2 linked regions of the Homo sapiens genome follow. The protein of the gene in region 1 purifies or fractionates together with the protein of each later gene. This does not show direct contact. Each region holds a gene or a part of one and is shown in the gene's direction. Other genes may lie near its edges.

Region 1 (3,653 bases):
GTGGCTTGAGAATCCACGTTGTCCCTGAGTTGGAGTGTGGCCAGAGGAATGACCGGGGACCCTGTGTCCAACAGTGCCGGGGCCCCCATGCGTGGTTGCAGGTGACCTCTCCATCCGACGCCCTCCTCCTTCCTGGGCTGGCGCTGCTCCCGTGGAGAGCTGACTTCCCTTCCCCAACAGGAGACCCTCCAGGTCAGCCCAGGGACCACCGCCCGCCTGCCCGGGGCCTGGGGCTCCAGGAGGGACCATTTGTGCCCTGATGGTGGCCATGAGCCGGGGACCCTGGGGCCAGGCACCAGCCAGGACAGGCTGCCCACTCTCAGCACATCCCACACAGCACAGGTGCACCCCGGGACCTGCTCAGGCAGCAGCTCTGTGCTGTCTACCTCCAGCACCCACCGTGTTTAATAAGCAGGTTCATCAGTGGAGCCATGCAGGCTGTGGGATGACTAGAGCTTGGTCAGGGGTGCACGGAGCTCTGAAATGTCAGAACTACACCGTGCAGATGGGACAGAGCTGCTGCTGGCCCCGCACCAGGCGCCTCTCAACTGTTCACTTTAAGATGTTGAAATGTACAGGATGTGAATTTCACCTCAAATTAAAACATTAAAAAAAGAAAATGGTACACAGTGCCCGCCCTAGGTGTTGAGGAATTCCCAGTTCACAATCTCCTGAGCAGTGCGTGGCATCTACAGAGAGGCCCGTCTTTTCCTTTTCATTAAGACAGGGTCTCTGTTGCCTAGGCTGGAGCTCAGTGGCACAATCATAGCTCGCTGCAGCCTCGAACTCCCAGGCTCAGGTGATCCTGCCTCAGCCCCACCCCGAGTAGCTGGGACCCCAGGCATGCACCACTACACCCAACTAATTTTTTTTATTTTTTATTTATTTCCTTTTGAGACATAGTCTTGCTCTGTCACCCAGGCTGGAGTGCAGTGGTGCAATCTCGGCTCACTGCAACATCCACCTCCCAAATTCAAACGATTCTCCTGCCTCAGCCTCCTGAATAGTTGGGATTAGAGGCTCACACCACCTTGCCCAGCTAATTTTTTTACCAAGTTGGCCAGGCTGGTCTCAAACTCCTGGACTTAAGCGATCCACCCGCCTTGGCCTCCCAGAGTGCTGGGATTACAGATGTAAACCACCATGCCTGGCCTAATTTTTTTATTATTTGTAGAGATGAGGTCTCGCTATGTTGCTCAAGCTGGTCTTCAACTCCCAGGCTAAAGTGATCCTCCCACCTCAGCCTCCCAAAGCACTGGGTATAGGTATGAGCCACTGGGCCAAGCCTAATGTTTTTCTTATCCTAACAAATTTATCTCCAAAACCCCACAATGAGAGAAACACTGGGAGCAGCGTGCAGGACCTAACAAGCCAGAGCCTGCCACAAAACCCCGGGCACCCAGCTGAAGATTCTAACTCAGCACCTGGCGCTTAGGAAACGGGTCTGAGCCCTGGGAGCCCGCACCCTGCCTTCTGGGTGTGCCCTGCAGTCCTGCGGAACCCTGTGGTTTAGACCGAGTTGCTGAGGAGCTTCCCGGATTCCCCGATCTCCGCTCCAGTCCTCTGAGCTGGTCTGCAGCCTGCCTCTTCCACCTCACCCCTGGGCCTTTGCACTGCTGCTCGCCTGCCTGGAAGGCTCTTTCAGCAGCGGTGGCCCTGGCTCCTCCAGCACTGCTCCTTCAGGTCTCTGCCCCCAGGGTTGTCTCCCAGCCCCACTCCAGCCCTGCCCCCAGGCAACCTCCTGTCTGGTAGGCAGCCTGTGTCGCTGATGCCTCCCTCCGCAAGGACGTCCCGCAGTGTAAGGCAAGGGTTCTAGATGCACCTCTGGTGTGAGAGCGGTGCCTTCCACACAGCGGGCACTCGGGATTTGCCCAACAGATTCCACCTTCCCCCAAACCCCTGCAAAAATCCCCAGCAGGGCCGCAGGGCTCGCAGCCCTCTGAGCGAAAGGGCCTGGCCTGTGTGGCATGTGCTCAGAGATGCGGGATCTGCACCCCAGACCCTGCTGGAGATCTGCTCCATGTGGGGAAGTAGAGCTTAGTGTCCCTGAGGGCTGCGGACAGGGGTGCATCAGCCTTGTGGCCGAAGTCTCTGGCCTTCACGCCTCTCAAAAGCAAGCAGATGCCACACCTCTAGTGTGTGGAGAGCCCTGGCTACACCAGGTCCAGCGCCAGAGCGGCTGGCCGCCCTGCCCTGGCGGGACACAACCGGAGCCAGACCCGGGATTCAGGGTACCCGGCACGGATGCTTTTACCTGGCAGGTGGCCTTAGACCTGGTTGTCTGACCCCCGACCAGGGACCCCTCACACGAGAGACCTGTTTACACAGTGGCTGCCCCGTAGCTCGTGTCTGACCTGTGTCCAGGGTATGCCTGTCCGACCATCGCTCTGGCACTGGGATCCCAGCCTGGGGCAGCTCCTGGTTCTTCTGACAGAAGGCGCAAATTCAGCACAGCGATAGGAAACAAGTTTGAAGATTTATTACGGATCCTAGGCAGGGAGGGCACTGTGAGCTGGGAAGGCAGCCCTCCCTCCCCGGGTCACACAAGGAAGGAAGGAAGAGTCCCACAGAGAGTGAGAGCTTGGCAGCTAGTGAGAGAGAGAGGGAGATGGGTGGATGATGGATGGATGGCTGGATGGGTGGACGGATGATGGATGGATGAGTAGATGGATGGATGATGGATAGATAATGGATAGATAGATGATGGATGGATGAGTGGATAGATGGATGGATGGATGGATGAGTAGATGGATGAATGGATAGATGATTGAGGGATGGATGGAAGGATGGATGGATGGAGATGATGGATAGATGATGGATGGATGAGTAGATGGATGGATGGATGATGGGTGGATGGATAGATGGACAGATGAGTGGATGGATGGATGGATGATGGGTGGATGGATGGATGGATGATGGGTAGATGGATAGACAGTAATAGATAGAGCAATAGATAGATATAGCTATCTGTAAGGCTGGGTGCGGTGGCTCATGCCTGTAATCCCAGCACTTTGGGAGGCCAAGGCGGACAGATCACTTGAGGATGGGAGTTCAAGACCAGGCTAACCAACATGGAGAAACCCCGTCTCTACTAAAAATACAAAATTATCTGGGCGTGCTGGCACTTGCCTGTAATCTCAGCTACTTGGGAGGCTGAGGGAGGAGAATCGCTTGAACCCGGGAGGTGGAGGTTGCAGTGAACCGAGATCGCACCATTGCACTCCAGCCTGGGCAACAAGAGCGAAACTCCATCTCAAAAAAAAAAAAAAAGATACAGCCATCTGTAGAATTGATATATACGGACATAGATTATATAGATAAATACAGTTATTGATGGAGATATACTTAGACAGACATACGGTCACTTTCAGCTATGGGTCACTTTCATTTCTTGGGCAAATGCCTAGGTGGTCTTTTGAAAGGCCCTGGGGGACCAGGCGCAGTGGTTCACGCCTGTAATCCCAGCACTTTGGAGGCCGAGGCGGGCAGATCACCTGAGGTTGGGAGTTCGAGACCAGCCTGGCCAACATGGAGAAACCCCATCTCTACTAAAAATAAAAAATTAGCGGACGCTGGTGGCGCATGCCTGTAATCCCAGCTACACAGGAGGCTGAGGCAGGAGAATTGTTTGAACCCGGGAGGCGGAGGTTGCA
Region 2 (3,653 bases), on another chromosome or scaffold:
TTGTATTTAATAAACATTATTGTCCATTCAATGATGCTCTTTCAGGCAAAAGCTGGCATGAAGTAAACTGTGTAGGATTACCAGAACTCCAGCTCATCTGCCTTGTTGGTACTGAGATAGAAGGGGAGGGGTTACAGACTGTGGTGCCTACCCCCATCACTGCTTCCCTCAGCCATAACAGGTGAGCAGGTGATTTTGGTCTAAGTTCCTTTCCCGAGTAAAGCAGTAGGAAACATTAAACATAGTGATGTAATACTTTTAATGAAATTTGGGATACAGGGTTCATAGCTTTACTCTTGGCTATTTGAGGAATAAGTTAAATATGAGTGTTGTATTCGGCCATTCTTGCATTGCTATAAAGAAATACCTGAGACTGAGTAATTTCTTAAAAAAAAAAGAAGAGGTTTAAGTGGCTCATAGTTCTGAAGGCTTTACAGTAAGCATGGTGCTGGCATCTACTCGGCTTCTAGGGAGGCCTCAGGAAGCTTATAATCATGGAGGAAGTTCGTGAAGCAAGAGCAGGCACATCATATGGCAAAAGCAGGAGTGAGAGAGAGTGTTGAGGGGGAGGTTCCACACACTTTTAAATGACCAGATCTCACGAGAACTCATTGTCCTGAAGACAGCACTCAGCCATGAAGGATTTACCCCTATAACCCAAACATCTCCCACCAGGCCCCACCTCCAACATTGGGGATTACAGTTCAACATGGGATTTGGGCAGGAACAAATATACAAAGTATATCAAGCATTCAACAAGTATTTATTTAGCACTTACTCTATGGTCAGTACTTTTTCAGAGACAGTATGTATGGTAGAAATATTTATATTCTTGGTAAGGAAGCAAGACCATTACATATGAAATAACAGCTGTTATAAGATGTACCATGTAATACAAATTATACTTTATATAGCAGTTGGTGAAAAGCATGATTAACATGCAAGCTGAAATCAAATTTTCATGTAGCTTTTTTTAAAAGCTTTAAAAAAGAGACTTTTTTTAGGACCTTTTTTTAAAAAGCTTAGGTACACAGCATTGGATTAAACATGTCTTTGTTTCATGACATACTCTCATTATTAGTTCATGCTTGGTTTTTATTTATTTACTTAGTTATTTTTAATAATGTAATAAGTATCTCTGTACCCATCACCCAAAGCAAAACTAGATTCTTGATAATAACTAACATCTAATCTTATAAGTCCCTTCCTTAACGTGCTTTCACTGACCTGAGGTAACTCATTCTGAATTCCATGTACATTGGGAATTTTTAAATTTTAGATGTTTTTAACTTTAATTAAAAAATCTTATCTTTTAAGGCTGACCTTATACACTTAATATTATATTACTAAAATTCATCCATTCTTGTGCATTTTTTGAGCTGCCACATAACATTCCATTGTGTGATTATACCACCATTTTTACATCCACTCCCTCGATGATGGAGTGTTGCTAATGTTTAACTTTAGGAGATAATTTCAAACTATTTTCAAAGTGGTTGCCTCAATTTACTTTTCACCTGCAGTGTAAATAAGATCCTTTGGAGCTGTATTGTCTCTCACATTTAGTATTGTCAGACTTTTAAATTTTTGCCAATGGAATGGATTATTCTTATTTTGGTCTTAATTTACATTTCCCTTATTACTCATAATACTGAATATTTCTTTATATATGTATTATTTATAAGAAATATCTGTTCATATCTTTTGCCTGTTGGGTTGTTTTTAGTTTTCTCATTGACTTGTATGAATTCTTTATATATTCTTGACCTAATAGTTTTTTTATTGTGTTTTCCAGTTTTTAAGTCTGTCTTTCACTGTCTTAAGATGTCTTTCAATGAGTAACAGTTCTTAATTTGAATATAATCATATTTATCCATCTTTTATAATCAACGTCTTTGTGTCTAGTTTAAGAAATATTTTCTATCTAACGGTCTAAAAAATACTTATATTTTCACTAAGAGTTCTATTGTTCTTGTTTTTAATGGTGTGAGAGGCGGTTAGGGATACCATTGTCATGTGGATAACCACTTTTTCTACCTCCATTTACTGAATAGTCCCTCCTTTCCTCACTATCTGACATATCACTTCTGCTACTTTCCAAAGTTCCAAACATGCATTAATTTGTTTCTGGGTTCTCTATTATATTCCATTAGCCAGTTTATCTGTCCTTTTGCCAATACCATATCTCTTAATCGCTTGCTTGGTAAGAAGTCTTGGTATCTGGTTAGCAAGCCTCCCTTATGCATTTCTTCTTTAGAAGCTGTAGCAGGCAGCTTCTAAGATGGCTTCTCCTAATTCTGGTATTCACTCCCTTATGTAACTCTCTTCCCTTGAGTGTGACCTGGACTCAGTGACTTCTTTCTAATGAATAAAATTTGGCAAAAATGATAGGAATGTAACTTCTAAGATTAGGTTACAAAAGACTGTGGCTTCTATCTTGGGCACTCTCTCTTGCTTACTATAAAGGAAGCCAGCTGCCACGTGAGCTGTCCTACAGAAAGTCTGAAAATAGAAAAGAGATGACAATTATTGATGGAGCAAGATTCTTGAGAGATGAGGAAGGATGGATTCAAGAGGATAGTGGAGGAGAGTAATATTGAGCATGTAAAGGGGTGCTGTAAACCTCTGAGAGTGGGGTATGGGAAGAATGAACAAATGAAAACACAGCTCTATTTGGGTGGCATATAAGTAGGGAAAAGAGCAGAGCCTCTTAAATTCCAGCATGAATACCGTTGATGAATACTTAACATTTTTTCTAGCTGACTATGACTGAATACATAGCAGTCTAGTAGAAAGAGCCCCAGACTATAAAGTCTTAAGACCTGGGTTCTAGTCTTGGGACTGACACTTAACATTTTGTTTGATGTTTAGCAACACACCTAATTTCTCTGGGTTTCAGTTTCCTCGTCTTATTTTGTTGTTGAGGGATTTAGATTACCAGTACATGCAAGATCCCTTCTAAATTAAAGCTGCTGTAACTGGTTATTTTCATTGTGCATATTTCATAAAGCCATATTAAACTAAATTTGCAGATTTCTATGAAGTATTTTTTGTATTTATTATTCATAATGAGAATTGTTTTTTAATATGTCAGTCTATTCATATGCTTCTTTGAGAAGCTCCTTACTGTTTTCTCTGTGTTTGAGAATTACAAATAGTTGTTAGCATTGACATCAGATTTAATCGCTAGTACTTTCCGGTTTTTACTAGCATGATTTCCAAGCCATCCTATATCCAAGAGTCTTAATTCATTCCTCAGAACTCATTACTTCTGTCTTTTAATTACTGTAACAAATATTGTCCTAGCTAGTATTAATGTTATATTATTTGTTTGGACAAGGAGCTACTATTTGAAATTAACCTGCATTTATTCCTAAAAAATAAAATTAATGAAAGCAATAGCCTATTTTAATCAAAATCATTTCATAAGTCTAGAAGTACAAATTTGTTTCCATTGTTAATTTCTAGTATTTTCCAGGTGGTAATTAATGCTTTTCTAGCTTGAATGGCTAAAGCTTGTTTTCTTCTTCAAGTAGAATTAGTTGGAATGATAACTTGGTAAGCCATTTTGATGCTGTTGCATTTAATAACTGAGAGAGCTTAAATCTTTATGTCTTGTTTTTATATAAATATTCTTAACTATATTATACAGT

The links. The genes of interacting proteins can lie anywhere in the genome.
Region 2: the proteins of LMNB2 (region 1) and TSEN15 purify together in Homo sapiens (affinity purification with mass spectrometry; one large-scale study listed by BioGRID and IntAct). This does not show direct contact.

What each region holds. Positions count from the first base shown.
Region 1 is NC_000019.10:2,439,810-2,443,462, reverse strand, and holds part of LMNB2 (lamin-B2), read left to right. Parts: intron 1-3,653. UniProt on the Homo sapiens protein: Lamins are intermediate filament proteins that assemble into a filamentous meshwork, and which constitute the major components of the nuclear lamina, a fibrous layer on the nucleoplasmic side of the inner nuclear membrane.
Region 2 is NC_000001.11:184,054,683-184,058,335, forward strand, and holds part of TSEN15 (tRNA-splicing endonuclease subunit Sen15), read left to right. Parts: intron 1-45; coding exon 46-181; intron 182-3,478; exon of another isoform or gene 3,479-3,558; intron 3,559-3,653. UniProt on the Homo sapiens protein: Non-catalytic subunit of the tRNA-splicing endonuclease complex, a complex responsible for identification and cleavage of the splice sites in pre-tRNA. It cleaves pre-tRNA at the 5' and 3' splice sites to release the intron.